2 separate regions of the Homo sapiens genome follow, and region 2 is linked to region 1. Evidence: fine-mapped expression QTL. Tissue or cell type: monocytes. Region 1 holds a variant in brackets; the other region holds the start of a gene. All regions are shown on one strand. Distances are from middle to middle.

What was found. PIP is the estimated chance that this variant, and not a neighbour inherited with it, causes the effect.
Region 2: NELFA starts here. The variant in region 1 is fine-mapped to the expression of NELFA in monocytes (TOPMed, PIP 0.97).

What each region holds. Positions count from the first base shown.
Region 1 is chr4:1,981,384-1,991,823 of GRCh38, forward strand. NELFA (negative elongation factor complex member A) reads right to left here. Exons shown (of 11, transcript NM_005663.5): 2 at 10,161-10,332; 3 at 8,325-8,486; 4 at 6,535-6,624; 5 at 4,889-5,019; 6 at 4,731-4,800; 7 at 4,393-4,481; 8 at 3,425-3,536; 9 at 2,465-2,730; 10 at 2,213-2,312; 11 at 1,340-2,120. The coding sequence ends at 1,936. It overlaps MIR943 (microRNA 943), which reads right to left and starts at 5,094; the gene lies at 5,001-5,094. NSD2 (nuclear receptor binding SET domain protein 2) reads left to right here. Exons shown (of 22, transcript NM_001042424.3): 22 at 1-809. RefSeq lists an enhancer at 10,425-10,440. The variant A/G (reference allele first, on the strand shown) is at 5,147.
Region 2 is chr4:2,004,029-2,014,468 of GRCh38, forward strand. It overlaps NELFA (negative elongation factor complex member A), which reads right to left and starts at 4,946. Exons shown (of 11, transcript NM_005663.5): 1 at 4,722-4,946. The coding sequence starts at 4,931. It overlaps LOC124900839, which reads right to left. Exons shown (of 4, transcript XM_047416543.1): 4 at 4,978-6,145. The coding sequence starts at 5,733. The coding sequence ends at 4,978. RefSeq lists enhancers at 4,629-5,129, 4,737-5,256 and a silencer at 5,317-5,696.

The DNA.
Region 1 (10,440 bases):
CCAGCTTTGTTCTGAGGACGTGGTGACTTCCTGAACATCAGCTTCAATCCTCCATCATTAATGTGAAGCAAAACACAAAAACCGCCCCAATCCCTCAGGATTCCTTGGCATCCGAAACCAGCATCTGCACCTAAACCCATACCCACCCGTGTGCGCCCACAGGGGGATGTGTCCGAATGGGCAGCTTAAAATGTGGTCACCTGTGGGGGAAACTCTTCAGGCACCTGAAGTGAGAACCCAGCTGTCCGTCCTCAGGCCGGCCTTTCTTCCGGCGACACCCGTCCATGGCTGGCTGGGTCCCCTTCGCAGTGTTTGTCTGTCTTGACATCTAAACCCCGGCGTGTGCAGTGCCCATCTTCCAGGACTACCTTATTTTCCAGAATTAAACCTGTTTTATAATTCAAGTTAATGCAAATGACTGTCAGTTGCCAAATATCTTGATCCTATGAGTGTAGTTGATGACTGTTTGTTAGTCAGTAGAGTAAAATGCTGTGTCCACGGGGTGTCACAGCCTCACCATACCCTGTTGAGGTGTGAAATGCCCCGTCAGAAATTAAATACAAACTTAAATGTGCCTATTGGTGTCTAAACTTCATACAATGTAAGGTCAGATTCCTTTTAGGAATACTGGGTGCTGTCACCAGGTTTGATAGTTAGACTTAAAAACTTGAAATTCACTTTTTGGGGGGAGGGATATACTGAAATAGAGAGTTGAGACTTGCCAGTTGGGGGAAAATAGCATTTAAAATGGAAAGCTGTGTTTGGAAAATTGTGTATGAGTATTTTTGTATTAAAAACATTTTAAAGGCTTTTTTCTTAACTTATTTTATATGGGATTGTTTGATTTTTTTTCCAGTTACTTTGAATTGCAAAGCATCGGGTGTGGCACTGATGCCTCCGATGGGTGGGGCTCCCTGTCCTGACTGTGTCATTTTGCCTTTGACCTGACCCGCTGGGGAGAGGCAGTGCCACCTTGGGAAGTATAACAACAAATACTGGAAATAGCAGGCATAACTGACTGACTTTGGAAAAATGCTTTCTTCTTCTTTCAGAAATAATTTGCTTCCCAAATTCCCATTAAGGGTGAAATGGTCTAGAGAGAAGGAAGCACTGCTGTCCCCCAGCCCTGCAGTCGGCTGAGCCGGGTGGTCCCCAGGCCCACAGCCAAGTAAGTCAAGGGAGTACCCCGAGGGCTGATCCTACCTGTTCCCCACCCTGTGGGCCAGGGTGTCCTAGGAAGCCCCCAGCCCTGGCCCACCCCGTCCTGATGGCCGCCTAGGGAGGGACTGGGTCCCCGGAGCAGGGAGGACAAGCTGGCCCCAAACACAGCTATGGTGGCTTTCTTTAGAAAAGCTCGACTTTAATGGTTCAGATAGTTTTACAATGAAAATAGGTACCCAAAGACTGTCTTAAATGTCCACAACTATACAAAAGATGAATACAAAACTCCCAGGCAGGCACAGGCAGGGGACAAGGCCCACCGTCTCCCACGCTCTGGTGTGGTCGGGTGTCCCTGCCGCACCCCCAGTACCACCGTGCCACCTTGGTCCCCTCAACCCTGGGGGTAGGAGGGCACTGCCCCAGCGAGGGAAAATAGAAAAGATTTTAAAAAGTAAGAGTCTAACAGGCAGAGCTGTCACTAAAATTAGGAAGTTGTAACTTTTTTGGTTAATTTACTTACTACATTCAAAAATGTAACGTTGAGTCCAAAAAGTGTCTTAAATCACACAAAAAAGAACCCATATTAAAATTTTAAAAATAAGCCCCAAATACCCCAGAGAAATGCATCCAGAACTTAAAACAGGCTGGGTCAGCAGCAGGGCGGCGGCCGGGGGACCTCGGGGGCCAGGTGTCCGCCATCCGGTTACTTTAAGCTGGCAAAGCCATCGTCCCGTGGACCCCCACAAGTGACGGCCAGCTGTGAGGCAGGTGGTTCTAGGACACATTGGTCATGGGCTTGTACTTCTTGAAGCGCGTCCACTGGCCCGTGGCATAGTTCATCTCAAACACTGTGTCCACCAGCATGGTTGTGCTACCCTGGCCGTCCGCCTTGGGCAGGTCCTCCGTGTGCTCGCTCAGCTTGATCTGGATCACGTCCCCCTGCTCCTGGCACGGGTTCTCTGCAGAGAGCAGGAGCTGCTGGGTGGGTGTCTGGGGGCACCCGCCCCCAACCCGGCCCGGTGCACCCCCAGGCCCTGCCTTATGAACATACCTCGGGAGCCGGCCATGAAGCCCAGGATGAGGGCCTTCTCGGGCCGCGTGACTTTGTTGGCCGTCTTGAACATCTCCTGGGCAGCGAACATCTGCTCTCTCTACAGCGGGGAGAGGGGTGTGGGTGCCAGGGCCCCGCCAGGACCACCTCCTGCATCCCCCTGCAGGCACCGTGGCACCCCCACGCTAGGGGAGGTGGCCAGGGCCGTACCACCTACCTGGTGGCCTGTGGGCCCTACCAGTGTACACCTACCGTGAGGGACAGGTTCTTCTTAGGCTGCTGCTGAGCAGGGGCCTGGGTCTGCGGGGCCACCATGGCAACCGGGGGTGTCTGAGTGGTAGGGGCGACAGCCGGAGGTGTGGTGGGTGTCAGAGGCGAGGTGGGCGCCGCAGGCGTGGGTGTGGCAGGGCTCAGGCCGCTGTTGTACATGGGCGCCCGCTGCTTGAACTGCGCTGGCAACGTGGGGCTCGGGGCGCTGGGCTCCTCTGGTGGGCGGCTGGCTTCCCGGGAAGATGGGGCTGCAAGTAGACCGGGGCCTGGTGAGGGGGCTGGACCCCCACCCTGTTCCCAAACCCTAGTGCTCCTGGAGGTGACAGGCTCAGCTCCCCTTCTCTGTCCTGCTACCCTCTGACAAGAACTCCCTGTGGCCCCCAGCCAAGGCACAGGCCCCAGAAGCCCCAGCCAGAGGAACAAGGCCAGTGGTCTCAGGCCTTTCCAGACTCGCAGATAAGATGTCTGGACTCTGGCCAGCTGCTGGCCTGCAGCAGGTCCCCATACCGTAGGCACTGCTGGGAAGACAGGAAGGCTGTATCCTCAAGCCCCTTGGGCCCAGGACCTGGCCTGAGGTGCTGTGAGCCTGGCAGTGCCCTCCGTCTGGGAGGGGATGGCTCTCAGCTCCCCTCCCGCCTACCCAGCAACAAGAGCTGGGTCACCTGGCAGAAAACCCTTTCGAACCCAATCCCCTTCCTGCCGTGTCCCCTGGGGCCGCTGCCTGTCTGTGCCCAGGACGGGCAGGGTGGGGCAAAGCAGCTGGTTTATGTCTTGGAGCTCAAGCTGAACAGCGGGGCATCTGCCCCCAGCAGATTCTGGCTGAGGCAGAAGGGGGACAACAGAGATGCAGGAGTGAGAACCGCAGCCCTGGCAGCGCCCGTGGGCAAGGTCATGTCCTGGCAGGCAGCTTGGCTGGTTCCAGGCTGGGGCCAGCAGACTCACCTGGGGGCGTCTCGGAGCTGGGGATGTAGGAGGAGGCGGGAACCACGCTGGGCGTGGAGGGAAGGTAGCTCGTGGAGGGCAGCGCAGGCTCATTGTTCAGGGACCCAAGTTTCTGGAACACAGAGTTTAAGGTTCCTTCCAGAAGAGGCCATGCTTCCGGCATGTGCTAACACATGGCCCGACCCGGAGCTCCACTGCCACAGGCTGTGGCCCCCCGAGCTAGAGCAGGAAGGCGGGGGCCACTCTCCCGAGCTCCCTGGGCTAGACAACGGGACCCCTGGCCCCTGGCGCCCCAGCAGAGTTGGGGACTGAGCCGCTCCTGTGTAGGAGAGGGGAGGGGTTGAGGAGCCCAAACAGCCCATCTTGAGCACAGAAGGAGCGATGCTTTTTCTTACCACGAAGCGTTGATATAAAGGAAGATGCTCATGTTAAGAAACACAGAACACGCAGCGGCGGGAAGAAAGGAGCTTATTATCCTGAAGTGACCCCACAGTGTGGCCTCCTCCAGGCCCTGGCCTCAGACGACCCACTGCAGCCTCTGTGCACCTGCCGCGCCCCGTGGCTGCCTCCCACCCGCAGGCAGGGCCTGGTCTCCGGGACACTGAGGCCTCTGACCACCCAGCACCCCCACAGGCCTGTCCTGCACCCATTCACGGCCACGTGCAAGGCTTAGGTCCCACCAGCCCTGCCTGACGGGACACTGAGGCACAGGGTTGAGGAGGACTCCCCTGGCAGCCCCTCCAGCAAGCGTGGGGCAGGTTCCCGCTCCAAGCCTGAGTCAGATGCCCATGTCAGGGCACGGCCCACACTGCCTCTCATGTACATATACGTATATATACATAAATACAGACTGCACACATATGTACATACATATATATATTCTCCGACAGAGCACACTAGTGGCCACAATCGGAACAAAAGGGGCACCCGCAGTGGTGCCAGACATGGGGTGCAGCCCCGAGCCCTACCTGCGTGGACACCAGGCCGGCTGCGTAGTCCGGGGTGGCGTTCTCCACCACCGTTTCCTCCTTGGCCGGCTTCTCCACCACCTCCGCATCTGTGGACAAAACAGGAGTCCTCGCCAGTGCCCGGGCGCGTCTGCAGTGTCAGCTCAGGGCAGCGGCAGGGAATCAAACAGCTTCCCAGGGGAGGCCACCAAGGAGCGAGGAGAAAAGCAGGCACCCACCCACGGAGAGCAGCCTCACGGGGCACAGCCCTGCCCGCCGAGCGTGGGCACAACCCACCCCAACTGGGCAGGGCCCGCAGGGACCCCCATTGCCGCCGACACGCAGGCCCCAACCCCCACCGAGAGTCTTCCTTCTCCGCTTCGCCTCTCGGCCAGCGCCAACCATATCCAGCTCAGAGATGTCCAGCAGCTGCCAAGACAAGCACAGCCCTGCCTTAGTGACGGCACCAGGGCGCAACGGGCCCCGGGGTGCCACAGGAGCTGGGGGACGGGCCTACCTTCACACCTCGTTCCTTCCGCAGCAGCGTCCTGGAAGGCGGGATGGGGGTCCGGTTCCCTGTGGGGCTGAAGACGCTGGGCGCCGTGGGGCTTCTGAAGGGCGCCTGCTTCGGGATGCCTTTGAGTGGGGCTGGAGGACGGCAACAGTCAGGGCGCCAGCAGCAGTGACCGGCAAACGTCCCCCACCCCGAGCTCAGAACGTCCCACCCTCTTCTAGGCTAGCGCCGCAGAGGGGAAGGGCCAAACCCCTGGCGGGC[A/G]GCGGGCAGGACCCCCAGGATCCCGGACCTCAAGGAGCAGGGGAACGCCTGGAGCCACGACCTCACACTTTGCCAAGACACCAAACAAAGACAGCGGCACCCCAGCCCAGCCACAGGATCTCACCAGGTGGAGTCTCTCACCAGTGTGGCGGGGGCTGAGCTCTGCCTCCTTCCTGTGCCTCCACCGGCAGGGGCATGAAGCCAGGCGCCTGGGCTTGAGGGCCGCCCTCCCAAGCCTTCTCCCCGTCCCCTGAGGACACTCCTGAGGCCTACCTACGCTGTTACCCACCAGCGCCCACACGCACCCTCCAAGGCGTGCGTGGCTCTCATGGTGCCAGGCCCGGAGAGAGGACGCCCGGGGGATGGTGCCATCAGCACACCGGGCCAGGCTGGACACACTGCTCAACGGCTGGCCCACCCTCCCTGGGCCAGCAGGTGCAGCCCTGGCCCTGGGATGCCTGGTGGGGGTGGAAAGACAAGGGTCTGCTCCAGGCGGGGTAGAGGAGAGCAAGGTGGAACCTCGGCTGCGGTGGGCAGGAACATGACCCAGGGACGGCCCCCCACACAGCGACAATAGTCAGCAGACCCAAGATGCCTTCTACTAGGTCCCATGTGAACACTGTGGGATTATGGGAGCCCAAATAAACTAAGCCAGGCTGGTCTGGGAGCTGCATGGAGAGCGCCTGTAAGGCTGCCCTTTCAGCCCCACCCATCTGCAAGTTTACCCAGCTGTCTCAGCACAGGACGACACCCGTCCTGCCCTCTGGCCCCCAGGTCACTATCCAGCACCCTCTGGGGTGAGTATGCCCTGCCATGGTTCCCAGGGGCACGCCGTCTTCCTGTGATCAGGGTGCATCCTGCTTAAGCTCACGCCCAGCCCTGAGAGCACAAATCAGGAAGGGCAGATGGAGGGGTGCGGGGGGCACAGCCCCACGGGCAGCTGAGCACGGTCACGTCCTCCCCGCGGAGCCGCCCAGGGACACTCGGAACCCAAGAGCAGCACTTGGGGCCGAAAGCCCGAGCTGGGAAGGCCGAGAGCCACCGGTGCCAACAGCAGAGGAGCAGGGGCCAGCACTGTCCTCAGATCCCGGCCTTCCTGTCTCCATGCCCAGCGGTGTCCTCAGATCCCGGCCTTCCTGTCTCCGTGCCCAGCACTGTCCTCAGATCCCGGCCCTCCTGTCTCCGTGCCCACACATCCTCCCAGGGAGCTCCCCAAGGGGAGAAGCCGGTGAAATTGCCCCAGTGCCTTCGCTTTCCCACGGGCTCCCAACACTGCTGCCTGAAGACCATTCACAGGCACCACCTCCCCAACAGGGAGCGGGTCTCCAGGTGAAGCCCTTAGCTCTGCCCCAAAAGCAAGGCTCACGGCACCAGGGTGGGGGCCTTACTGGTGGTGTCCATCTTCCGCAGCAGCCCCCGGCCCTTGGCGTGGAAGGGCACCCCGGCGCTCCGCTTCAACTGCTGGGCGGTCTCCGTGGCTGGAAGGAAGAGGTCACATATGTCAGGGATCCTCAGAGCGAGAGCCCTTGGCCCTTGTAAAAACATCTCTGTCAAGTGGATTCATCCGACGGCCTGAGCCGTGAACGCTGCATTCTCTCTAAATGAGCAGCTGTTCCGAGCCGGGCCTGACACCAGCTCGCACTTTACAACGAGTCAGAAACTCACTCAGGTGAGCAAGTTTCGGGAGCTGGGTGGCTGTGGCTGCACCTCCCAGGACCCCATGGCAGGGGGGAGGCAGCCGAGGAGGAGCTGAGGGACCTCATGAGCCCTCTCCATCGACCCGGGCCTCCCCCTGGCCCAGTGGTAGCACCGTCCTCGCTGAGGGTCAGCAGGCACGGTCTAGATACAAAAATATGAGGAAGAAACAAACGAAGAGATATTCCTGACTTGGTTCAGTGTGGCTGAAGGGTCAGGGGACACCGAGTGCCCAAAGCAGACCCTGTGGCCACTGCTGGCCTCCAAAGGGGGTGGGGCCCAAGGGGCCAGCAGAGTCCTTCCTGGGCTACCCAGTGGGCCCGGGGCTGCACGGAGCCTCCCGGACAGCGCTGGGCCCTGGCTGCTGCCCGTTCCAGCCAAGATCCATGCACAGCTGCTGTCAGCCTTTTATTTGGATTCTCTGGAAACGGGGTATTGATGTACATTATAAATATTAATTCCATAACCATTCAAAATAAAACGATGTTATTGAAATCTTTGTCGTGCTTTGGGAAAACGTTAACTGAAATGATTAAATATCTTTCAAGTGGAATTGAGATCACCCGCCACTCCAGAAGGCAGCAACGTGAGAGTAAGGAACGTGCCCCTCCAGCCATTCACCCTGGCACCCACCGTGCCCAACAGCGTGACTCAGCTGGCACAGAGTTCATTTGGTCACAGAGATTAGAGATGCCTTCACCTAAAATTCTGAAGTTGGTGGGTTTTTTTTTTTTTTTTGAGATGTTGTTTCGCTCTTGTTGCCCAGGCTGGAGTGCAGTGGGGCAATCTTGGCTCACTGCAACCTCCGCCTCCCAGGTTCAAGTGATTCTCTTGCCTCAGCCTCCCAAGCAACTGGGATTACAGGCATGCACCACCACAGCCAGCTAATTTTTGTATTTTTAGTAGAGACGGGGTTTCACCATGTGGGCCAGGCTGGTCTCGATCTCCTGACCTCAGGTGATCTGCTGGCCTCAGCCTCCCAAAGTGCTGGGTTTACAGGTGTGAGCCACCATGCCCAGCCTAAATTCTGAAGTTTTTAAAGCATGTTTTCAGAACATAAAGTTTAATATAGTGATAAACTTCTAACAAAAAACTTTATGCAGAACTTTATCTTCTTTTTCTTGAGACAGGGTCTCACTCTCTCCCAGGCTGGAGTGTAGTGGTGTGATCACAGCTCACTGCAGCCTCAACCTCGTGGGCTCAGGTGATCCTCCTACCTCAGCCTTCCGAGTAGCTGGGAGCACAGGCACGCACCACCATGCCCGGCTAATGTTTTGGTACTTTTGGTAGAGATGGGGTTTCTTGGCTGGTCTCAAACTCCTGGGCTCAAACGACCCACCTGCCCCAGCCTCCCAACAGGTGTGAGCCACCATGCCTGGCCCAGAACGCCACCTTGAAGGGGCAGTCTTGGTACCTTAGAACCTAAGAAACCTATGACTGGAAACTACAAAGACAATGCCCGATGGCGGCCGCGGCCACTCACACTTCTGCAGCAGCTCCGCCCGCAGCGTGGCGCTCTTGGGTTTCCGCTTTAACTGAAAATGCTTCACCGGGGGAGTGAGGGGTCCCGCGAGGGTCGTCAGGGCGTTTTTGTTCAAGTACTGGCACTCCAGTGGCAGCATGGCAGACGCTTCACACTCACCCACTGCCGGTAAGAACCACATGAAGTTAGGGGCGCCCAGGCCGCAGACCTCCCGGCTGAGAGGAGCTGGCGGCTGCCCAGCCCCACACCCTCCTCAGTTAGGGTTAGGTCATGGGAGCTTCGGCTGTCCCCTGAGGTCCTCGAGACTGACTCCCCACGGCTCCAGCAGAACACCCAGGAGCATTTGCAGAACAGGAATGCCTGAGAGGCGGGCATGCCTTGAGAGGGCTGTAAACTGGAAACCTCTGGCACCGCGGACACCAAGAACCACAGGCGGACATAGATACAGTGATTCCTGGAGGGCTCCAGACACTTGTAGAACATGAAATGTTAACAGATCCCACCCCCACGTAAGAAGGACCCCCGATCTGTGGCTTCTCTCTTCCCGTCCCCGAGGGTAGCCAGGCTGGTGGTCTCTCCTGGAACCCTGGCCCTCATCCAAACTGCCCACATCCATTTCCTCAGCCTGTGTGCTCACCCACGGTTCAGATCCCAGAAACTGCCCCACGAGGGACAGGCGACCTCCCACCTGAACTGGCTACGTGCCCCACCTGGAGAAAAAGCACAGGCAGGCACATGAGAGTTCACCGGCCTCAGCCTTCCTGCCCGCGGGACACTCCTGAGACACGAACGGGTGGGGTGGGGTGGACCTGTCCAGACCACTGCTCCAGAGGCATCTGTGTGGTGTGTGTGACCTCACAGGTGGGGAGAGGTGCCACTTGCAGGGGGGTGGCCAGCAGGGCCCCTGCAGGAGTGTGCAGCCTCGATGTCTCCATCCCACAACCCTGTCTCTCTGGGTGCTGCCCTTGAAGGAGCTGGGGCACAACGTTTGGGCTCTGAGGAGCCAGTTCCAATTGTCCAAAGCAGGAGAGAAACTCAGAAAAGCACAAGCATCAAGCATCCCATCAAGACATGTTCTTCAAATCCATCTACAAATAGTTGTTTCTTTTAAGAGATACATTCTCACCCTGTTACCCAGGCTGGAGTGCAGTGGCGCGATCATGGCTCACTGCAGCCTTGGCCTCCCAGGCTCAAGTGATCCTCCTGACTCAGCCTCCCAAGTACCTGGGAGGACAGGCATGTGCCATCACGCCCACCTAATTTTTATTTTTTGTACAAATGGGTTCTTGCTATGTTTCCCAGGCTGGTCTCGAACTCCTGGGCTCAAGCAATCTGGCCATCTCAGCCTCCCAAAGTGCTGGGGTTACAGGAGTGAGCCACGGAGCCCAGCCTTGTGAATATTTTCTAAGTGACTTTCAGTTCACATTTAAACAACTAAATCGTTGATATTTTCAACATGCATTTCTGAGCATGTACTCTGGGCCAGGGAATGCTCTGGGCCCTAGAACCTAGGATCTACAGATACCACCTGAATGGGCAGAGCCCCTACCCTCACGGAGCCGACCAGAGAGAGACGGCGAGTGGCGTGACACAGCCTCCCACTGACACCGCAGCAGTGAGGATGGGGCCTGTGGGCTGTTTGGAGTTTGTTTTCAAAGATGGCAAAAGCCAGGCAGCAGCTTACGGGGGAGGATGGTGCATATACAGTTAATATTCTAGGGACCAGGACACACGGAAAAACGTAAAGGTCTAAAAATCAAATTCATTTCAGAAAAAAATTTTTCAAGAAAGATCCATTTCCCTCCACCCAACATGAATTAAAGCAGCACAACATACCCTTTTCTCTAAGTTCTCCCAAAATATCCTGAACGTTGGGATTCTGCTCCTCCAGCTCCAGGTTAAGCGAGCCTGTGTCCGGAAAGGACTTCAAGATGTCGGCGACCATGAGCACCCAGGGGTCCGAGTCGAGGCTGGCGAGCTGGATGATCTCCATTAGGGCGCCCTTCATCTGCAAAATAGGATGCTGCCGGCGCCACCATGCCCCTGCCCACTTCCAAGCCCACTCCCTGCTGAGCTTCCGGATGGGCACTGGGCAGTGGCCGGGCTCTCTGGCAGT
Region 2 (10,440 bases), 23 kb after region 1:
CGTGTCTCTAGTCCCAGCTACTCGGGAGGCTGAGGCAGGAGAATCCCTTGAACCTGGGAGGCGCAGGTTGTGGTGAGCCGAGATCGCGCCACTGCACTCCAGCCTGGCGACAGGGCAAGACTCTGTTTCAAAAAAAAGAAAAAAAAAGAAGAAGAAGAAAAAAGAAAACATTACATTAAGTGAAAGAAGTCAGGCACAAAAGACCAGATGTATGATTCTATTTATATAAAATATCCTGAATAGACAAATCTATAGAAGCAAAAAGTAGATTACTAGTCACCTAGGAGTGGGGAGGAAGAGGACTGGGCAAATGCTAATGAGTGTAGGATTTATTTGGGGGATGATGAAAATGTTTGAAAATTGACTAGCATGACCATCAAACCTGTAAATATACTAAAAACTACTGAAGTGTACATTTTAAATGGTGAACTACCTGGCATAATTATATGGTACATAAAATAATATCTTTTTTCTTTTGAGACAGGGTCTCATTCTGTCGGCCAGGCTAGAGTGCAGTGATGCAATCATGGCTCGCCGCATCCTCAACCTCCCAGGCTCAAGTGATCCTCTCGCCACAGCCTCCCAAGTAGCTGGGACCACAGCCATGTGCCGCCACCCCTGGCTAATTTTTATATTTTTTATGGAGACAGGGTTTCACCATATTGCTCAGGCTGATCTCGAATGCCTGGGTTCAAGCAATCCGCCCATCTTGGCCTCCCAAAGTGCTGAGATTACAGGCATGAGCTACTGCACCCAGCTATACATTATATTTTAATAAAGCTTTTTTTTTTTTTTTGGAGACAGAGTCTTGCTGTCGCCCAGGCTGGAGTGCAGTGGCGCGATCTCAGCTCACTGCAAGCTCTGCCTCCTGGGTTCACGGCATTCTTCTGCTTCAGCCTCCCTAGTAGCTGGGACTACAGGCGCCTGCCACCATGCCCGGCTAATTTTTTTGTATTTTTTCTTTAGAGACGGGGTTTCACCATGTTAGCCAGGATGGTCTCGATCTCCTGGCCTCGTGATCCGCCCGCCTCGGCCTCCCAAAGTGCTGGGATTACAGGTGTGAGCTACTGCACCCAGCCAATAAAGCTATTTTAAAAAAATTCATGATTAAAAGATTTTTTTTTACAAGTCTTCTAAGAAGAGAATTTCCTTAACTAGATAAAGGGTATTTATTAAAGACAACAGGAAACATAATGCTCACTGGCAAAACATTCCGAGTTCTCCCTGTGTGATCGGAGGTAAGACAATGAGCTGGAGGGTCCTAGCCAGTCCAGTGAGACGAGAAAAAAAACAAAAGGTAATTGGAGAAAGAAAAATAATATGAAGTGCACAGAAAAATCAAGGAGATTCTATAGAAAAAAAAAATTTTGCAACTAGCAAAACTTTAGCACAGATACTAGTCACAAATTCATTATCCAAAAATCAGGCTGGGCATAGTGGCTCACCTGAGGTCAGGAGTTCGAGAGCAGCCTGGCCAACATGGTGAAACCCCATCTCTACTAAAAATACAAAAATTAGCCAGGTGTGGTGGTGCATGCCTGTAATCCCAGTTACTCGGGAAGCTAAGGTAGGAGAATCACCTGAGCTCAGGAGGAGGAGGTTGCAGTGAGCTGAGATCGCGCCACTGCTCTCCAGCCTGGGTGAGAGAGTGAGATCTCCGTCTAAAAAACAAACAAACAAACAAACAAACAAAAACAAAAATCAACGCATTTCTATATACCAGCAACAAGTAAAAACTAAGACTTTAACAGATACCATTTACAACGGCATGGAAAAATATGAAATAGGTGGTAATATATGAGATGGAAGACCCCTACAGAGATCACAAAGAACATCTAAATAGATAAGCCCACACCCACAAATTATAGGATGCAATATAAAGAGGACAGCACCCCAGAATGAACTGCAAGTTCAGCTCAGCCTTAAAATCCCAGCAGGCAGGCTCTACGTGTTTAAGAAGTAAGTATATAAGATACATGTGGAAGTGTGAAGGGACAAGAATAGCCATAGATGATCCCGGAGAAAGATACAGTGGGAGGGTTTGCTCCGTCCGCTAACAAGGCTTATAAATAAAGTGACAAGAACCGACTTAGTGGGTTATTAGCACATCGATATGTAAATGACCAAAAGAACAGAGCACAGCCCAGAAACACATCCACAGCAGAAGCTGCAGTGCAGATCAATGGAAAAGGACAGTCATTTCAATCAACGTTGGGTGCTGGACTAATTGCACATCCATGTGGAAAATTAGACTCCCTGCTTCACACAATCATCAATTCCACGCAGACTGAAGATTCAAGTGCGAAAGGTAAAACTGTACAGCTACGCCAAGATAACCCAGGGAGTGTTCCGGGCATGTCCCTCGGGGAGACACAATAGGCACCAATGATAGTGGGCGGATGAATACACCATCTATGTTAAAACTAGGAGCTTCTATTCATCCATGATTCCAGGAAAAGGGCTGGGCGCACAGATCACACCTGTAATCCCAACACTATGGGAGGCCAAGGCAGGAGGATCACTTGAGGCTAGGAGTTCAAGACCAGCCTGGGCAATACAGTAAGACCCCCATCTCCATACACATGCACAAAAATTAGCCAGGCGTGGTGGCAGCGCATCAGTCCCAGCTACTACAGAGGTTTAGGAGGGAGGACTGCTTAAGCCCAGGAGTTCAAGGTTAAAGTGAGCTATGATTATACCACTAGACTCTAGCCTGGGTGACAGAGTGAGACGCTGTCTCAAAAAAAAAAAAAAAAAAAAAAAAAAGGATTCCAGGAAGCTAAGTCAAAGTCAAAGGACAACTGGGAGATATTTGTAACTGAAAAAGGACTGATATCTAGCATTTATAATAAATAATAAAAAAGACACTCTTACAAAACAATGGGAAAAAAGAGAATTTAAAAGCAGATTTGAATATACAATTCTCAAAGCAGAAAACCAAACAGCAGGCCGAGTGCCATGGCTCACACCTGTAATCCCAGCCCTTCAGGAGGCTGAGGCAAGCAGATTGCTTGAGGTCAGGAGTTCAAGACCAGCCTGGGCAGCATGGTGAAACCCTGTAGTCCCAGCTACTCAGGAGGCTGAGATGGGAAGATCTGAGGTGAGGAGGTCAAGGCTGCAGTGAGTCACGATGGTGCCACTGCACTCCAGCCTGGTTGACAGCGCCAGACCCTGTCTCAAACAAAACACAAACACAAAAACAAAACACTCTGAAAAATAATTTGGCATGATCCTATGATCCTCACAATTCCACTCCTAGATGTTATACCCTAGAGAAATCCAAGATTCCAAACACCTGAACATATGACCGTAATGTAGTAACGGGATGATTTACAAGAGCACAAAAGCTAAGCGTGTCACTGTGGCAGAATGGATAAAGTGCCTCGTGCTCACAGACAGGAATACCACGCAGCAGTGAAAATTAAACTGCAGTCAGCTGCAACGTGGATGAAACTGTCACGGCGTCGACCAAAAAGACACATGCACGCCACACACAAAATACACTATGATACCATCACACTAACTCCAAATCCGGCAACCAAGCTGTGCCATTTAGGGGTGCATAAATAATTGCTCACACCGGGGAGATGGCACAGAAATGATTACCTTTCCAAAATGAGGAAGGGGAAAGGAAGAAGGCCGTGATTACCAGTGGGAGGCTTCCAAGGAACAGGCATGGTTCTACTTCTCCACCTGTGTAAGGATCACAGGAGTGGCTCGCGATGCTATTATTATTCGTTAAACTGAACAAAAATGCACTTTTCCATACATGTCATATCTCAATCAAAAGCAATTACAACCTATAATAGCTAATAATACATCAGTAGCCAGGAACGTTTAAACAACCATGGGGCTTCAATAGTCTGCAAAACTACTCGGTTTATTTCGCACGGAAAGCGATACAATATAAAGTTTAGGAAAAAAGAAAACAAACCTCACACACCCACTTATTGGAATGACGCAAAACGGCGTGTAGAAAAGAGTAAAACGGACACAGAGCGCTCCGGACGGCCGGGGTCTTTGCGAGGTGAGAACAAGAAAATCCAGTCAGCGGACACTGGAGCTACCGAGCCCAGGCCGCCCCTTCCTCACGCGGGGGTTTCTCTCGGGATCCCCGCCCTCGCCCAGGTCACCAGGGCTGCGTCCCCGACGGGAAACCCCGATGGGAGACCCCGCTGGGGCCGGCGCACCCCCGCTCCAAGAGTCGGTCGCTTCGGCACGGTGGGGGATTAGGGTGGTGAGGACCGAAGGCGGGGGAGGCGGGGGCGGGTGGGGATGAGTACCCGGGGGCCCAGGGAGGGGAGTGAGGACCTGGGGGTCGTAGCGAGAACCCGGGGCCCGGCGGGGAGGAGATTGAGGATCCCAGGGGAGGTGAAAACTTGGGTAGGGGTGAGGACGAAAAGTAGGGAGGTGAGGACCCTAGTGGGGGATTCCCAGGGGGCGAGGAGGGGCGGGGGGTCCTGAAGACCCACGGTGGGGATGAGAACCGAGGTGGGAGATGAGGATCGAGGCGGGGGATGAGGACCCAGGGGGAGGTGAGGACTGGAGGGAGGTATTCGGAGGAGCGAGGAGGGGGCGTGAGGGCGGGCCGGGGGGGTTAACAGTCTGAAGGGGGATGGGAAGGTTGGGGGAGGGAGCGAGGAGGGTCCGGAGTTGGGTGTGCGGGTCGGAGGTGGGAAGGTTGGGAATCTGGGGGCCGCGGGGCGCCACGCCTGCCTTACCTCGTCCACCGTGCGGCGCGGGAGGTGCAGCGTCCCGAGTAGCAACTTGAGCTTCACTGCCGACGAGAGGCCATGGAAGCAGAGACGGATGTTGTCGATGACCGCGGCCGTGAGCAGGGACGCGATGCTGGGCGGCGCCCACAGCTCGTCCGTGGCCCCCAGCTTGTTGTGCAGCCACAGGCCCGTGTCGCTCTCCCGCATGGACGCCATCTTGGGGGAAAGCGCGCGCCGCTGCCCCGGCATCTTATGAAGACACCTACGCGTCCCTCGCTAGGACCCCAACATGGCGGCGCCCGTCGGGCTGCGGGCCGCAGAGGCGGCGCAGGTGGCGCGGTCCCACGAGCGGGGCTTCCCGGGAGAGCGCTTCTGGGTGGCGACCGCGTCTCCGGGTAGCGGCCGCGTCTTCGGGAAGCTTTGTGGCAAAGCCGAGAGCCGGAAGGACGGGGTGCCGCTGAGCAAGGACTATCGGCTTCCGTAAAACATCATGGCGGCGCCCTCTGCTGGCTCTCGGGAAGACCGCAAAAAATGACGTCACGAGCAGGCGCGCGTATTCGCGTCTTGGGAGCCCGGGCTGCGGCCTGGCATTCGCAGTGCAGGTGTCAAGCGCCGCAGACTTGCTGCTCGCGCGGTGGGGCGGAGGCTCCCTGTGGCACCTGCCCCGCTGTCCGCTCTTCGCTTTTTCCCCGCTTGGGTCTCGGCGCGGACCGTGTGGACGCCCCGCCCCCGCGGGCCCAGCACCTGCACGGAGAGGAGCCGCGGCCCTGCGGAGCGAGCCTGCGGGATCCCGGTCGCAGCGCTGAGCTTCCGTCCCCCGCTGAGCCCGCTCTGCCCGTGGCGCGCCGCCGACGGGGCTGCGCTGAGCATGCGGGTCGGAGGGCGCTCGGGAGCTGTCCAGGGGCACTCGTGACCCCACAGTGCAGGGAGGCCCCGGCCCCCAGTCGGGCTGGAGCCGCCAGGCAGGAGCCAGTAGTGAACTTTTCAGTTTTAAAAGCTTGTCATTAGATACAAACATGAGTAAAAGTTAAACTTCATTTTATTAAATTCGTTTTACCCTTTTGTCTTTTTGACGAGGCCTTCCTATGTTGGCCAGGCTGGTCTCAAACTCCTGGGCTCAAGCGATCCGCCCGCCCGCCTCTGCCTCCCAGAGTGCTGGGGTTACAGGTCGGGGCCGCCTTGCTTGGCTTCTGTATTATATCTTTTTTTTAAAAGATCTTTTCCTTATTGTTCCACTGCCATGCTCCTGCCGCCGTTCACAGCTATTGCCACTGGGCGGTGGGAACGCCGGGAGAACAGGGCTCAGCCCAGCTGCTAGCAGTGCCCTGGCCCTGGCGGCTTGAACTTGGCAGTCCTGCGGAAGTCACACGGGGGAAACCCGCAAATGCTACAAATCAGTGCTGGAGCGGTGGTTTTGTTGATTGCTTAAACTGAAGAAAGTGATAGAGAAAATGTTGATGATAAAGATTAAACTTAAAACTGTCATGTCGACAACCGTTACATTGCAAATAGCACATAAAATTTAAGAGAATATTTTTTAAATGATTCAAAAGTGTCGAATTCAGCAAAGACAAGTTATTGACTAATGGGTGAAGTTGTGACATCAGTGGGGCTAGTGCTGAAAGAAGTTTAATGATTAGGCCGGTCACGGTGGCTCACGCCTGTAATCCCAGCACTTTGGGAGGCCAAGGCGGGCGGATCACCTGAGGTCGGGAGTTCGAGACCAGCCTGGCCAGCATGGAGAAACCTCGTCTCTACTAAAAATACAAAACTAGCCGGGCTTGGTGGCGCATGGCTTGCCTGTAAGCCCAGCTACTCGGGAGGCTGAGGCAGGAGAATGGCTTGAACCCGGGAGGCGGAGTCTGCGGTGAGCCGAGATTTTGCCATTGCACTCCAGCCTGGGCCACAAGAGCAAAACTCCCTCTCAAAAAAAAAAAAAAAAGTTTAATAATTATAATCTGAGGGTAAGAAATAGTTTAACAGTGGACGACATATCAAATTTAGTATGAGAAGAGTGAAAGTTACTTCAAGTTGTGAAATCATGATTGAACCGTAAACATTAGTTGGTTGAAATGAAAATTTTTGTTCACAGAAACCTGTGTGCAAACGTTTATAGCAGCTTTATTTATAATAGCCCCAAACTTGAAACAATCCGAATGATTCTGACCCCCAACTGTCTGTAGCTTTCTGTAGGATACGCAGCACTTTTCTGTATACAGTGCTTGATGCATCTTGAGTCTTCAGTTTTATGCAGGAAAAATCCAAGTTAACATCTGGCTTAACCAAGAAGACAAACCACTAGGAGGACTTAGTTACAGCATCAGAAAGCAATGGATTAATATTCAGAATGAAAAAAGGAATGCTTGTAAATCGACGAGAAAAAGACCGACAATAGACAAATGTGCAGAAGATAAGAATAGGCAATTCACAGCCTGGCCATCATAGTGAAACCCCGTTTCTACTAAAAATACGAAAACAGTGGGGCGTGGTGGTTCATGCCTGTCATCCCAGCTACTCAGGAGGCTGAGGCAGGAGAATCGCTTGAACCCAGGAGGCAGAGGTTGGAGGGAGCGGAAATCACACCACTGAACTCAGGCGTGGGCCACAGAGCGAGACTCTGTCTCAAAAAAAAAAAAAAAAAAAAAAGCAATTCGTAGGAGAAACCCAAATACCGGAGAAGCACATGGAGAGATGCTTAAATTCATCAGCAACCTGACAAACCCAAATTAAAATAACAAGATGCCTCATTACACCTATCAGATTGCAAAATTAGAAAGCCAAAGTTTTTTTCATTTTAAAACATGGTATCCAGTTGTTCCCATATTATTTGTCGAAATGACGATCCTTTCTGGACTTTTCTATCCTGACTTACTCATCTATCTTTATGCCAATACCAGACTGTCTTGGTTACTATAGCTTTCTAAAATAAGTGTTGAAATCAGGTAGTGTTAATTCTCTGACTTTTTTTTTTTTAAAGTTATTTGGGTTATTTTAGGTCCTCTGTATTTCCTTTTTTTTTTTTTTTTTTTTTTTTTTTTTTGAGGCAAGGTCTGGCTCTGTTGCCCAAGCTGGAGTGCAGTGATGCAATCTCAGCTTGCTTCAGCCTCTACCTCCTGCGTTCAAGTAATTCTCATGGCTCAGCCTTGCAAGTAGCTGGGAATACAGGCATGCACCACCAAACCTGGCTAATTTTTGTATTTTCAGTAGAGACGGGGTTTCACCCTGTTGGCCAGGCTGGTCTAGAACTCCTGACCGCAAGTGATCCACCCACCTCAGCCTTCCAAAGTGCTGGGATTACAGGTGAGCCACAGTGCCCAGCCTGCATTTCCATATAAATTTTAGAATCGTTTGTCAATTTCTACAAAAAAAAAAAAAGGCTTCTGGCATTTTGAGTGGAATTGTGTTGAATCTGTAGGTCAGTTGAGGGAGAACTGGTAACTTCTGTCTAGTGAACATAGTATTTCTCTCTGTTTATTTGGGTCTTTAAATTCTCTCAGCTAGGCTCATGGCTATGTAATCCCAGCACTTTGGGAGGCCGAGGAGGGTGGATTGCTTGAGCCCAGGAGTTGGAAACCAGCCTCAGTAACGTGGCGAAACCCCATCTCTACAACAAATATAAAAAGCTGGGCTGGTGGTGCGCCTGTAGTCCCAGCTACTTAGGAGGTTGAGGTGGGAGGATCACTTGAGCTCAGGAGTTCAAGACCAGCCTGAGCCACATGGTGGGACTCTGTCTCTAAAAAATTAAAAATAAATTAAAAAATAAATTTTCTCAGCCCCATTTTGTAGTGTTCAATGTAAGGGTCTTGCACATCTTTTCAGAATTGCCTCCAAGTATTGCATAACCTTGATGTGGTTGTAAAGGGTGTTGTTTAAAATTTTTAATTTATCAGTGTTTGTCGCCAGTATATAGAAATACAACAGATTTTTGTGTGTTGATTTTGTATCCTGCAGCCTGGCTAAACGCATTTATTTGTTCCAGTAGTTTTTTCATACATTGTATTAGTTTTCTGCAAAGACAATCATGCCATTTGTGAAGGCAGTTTTATCTTTTTTTCTAATTTATTTGCCTGACTCTGCAACATAAAGAGTCCTTATTTTGGCTGGGCATGGTGGCTCACATCTATAATCCCAGCACTTTGAGAGGCTGAGGCAGGCGGGTCACCTGAGGTCAGGAGTTCGAGACCAGCCTGGCCAACATGGTGAAACCCCATCTCTACTAAAAATACAAAAAATTAGCTGGGCGTGGTGGCAGGCGCTTGTAATTCCAGCTACCCAGGAGGCTGAGGCAGGAGAATCGCTTGAAACCAGGAGGCGGAGGTTGTAGTTAGCGGAGATCGTGCCATTGCACTCCAGCCTGGGCAACAAGAGGGAAACTCCATCTCAAAATCGAGACCAGCCTGGCCAACATGGTAAAACCCCGTCTCTACTAAAAATACAAAAATTAGCTGGACGTGGTGGCAGGCGCCTGTAATCCCAGCTACTTGGGAGGCTGAGGCAGGGGAATTGCTTGAACCCGGGAGGCGAAGGTTGCAGTGAGTTGAGATCGTGCCATTGCACTCCAGCCTGGGCGACCAAAGGGAAAAAAAAAGTCCTTATTTTTACTTTAAAGCAATAAATTTTACAACTTTACTGAATTTCTAAAAAAAAACCCTAGTGGTATTTTGATTGGCTTTCCATTGGGTTTGTAGATTAATTTAGAGAGAACTGACATCTTTATATAGTATATGATACACAGACAAGCTTTCATTTTTCTTTCTTTATGATCTTCAGTAGACGTTACTATTTTTCTCCATACAGTTTTTTTTTTTTTTAAGAGAGGGTCTTACTCTGTTGCCCAGGCTGGAATGCAGTGGTGCGATCTCAGCTCACTGCAGCCTCCGCCTCCCAAGCTCAAGCGATTCTCATGCCTCAGCCTTTCAAGTAGCTGGGACTACAGGCATATGCTACCATGCCCAGCTAATTTTTGTGTTTTTCTCTTTTTTGATATAGAGTCTCGCTCTGTTGGTGAGGCTGGGGTGCAGTGGCGCGATCTCGGCTCGCTGCAACCTCCGCCTCCCGGGGTCAAGCAATTCTCCTGCCTCTCACCTTCCCTAGTAGCCTCCGCCTCCCGGGTTCAAGTGATTCTCATCGCTCAGCCTCCTGAGTAGCTGGGATTACAGGCATGCAACACCAAGCCTGGCTAATTTTTGTATTTTCGGTAGAGACGGGATTTCACCATGTTGGCCAGGCTGGTCTCGAACTCCTGATCTCAGATCCGCCCACCTCGGCCTCCCAAACTGTTGGGATCCAGGTGTGAGCCACCACACCCAGCCTATTTTTGTGGTTTGTTTGTTTGTTTAGTAGAGATGGGGTTTTGCCATGTTGGCCAGGCTGGTCTCCAACTCCTGGCCTTGAGTGATCTCCCCGCCTTGGCCTCCCAAAGTGCTGAGATTATAGGAATGAGCCACCACGCCTGGCCAGTTCTTTCTTACTTATTTTTTTTAGAGATAGCGTCTCACTCTTGCCTAGGCTGGAGTGCAGCCGTACAATCTTGGCTCACTGCAGCCTCATAGCTGAGACTACAGGCGCGTGCCACCATGCCCAGCTAGCTTTTGAAATTTTTGTAGAGATGAAGTCTCACTATGTAGAGATGACGTCTCAAACTCTTGGCCTCAAGCAATCCTCCCACCTTGGCCTGCCAAAGAGCTGGGATAACAGGTGTGCACCACCGCGCCAGGCCTCATAC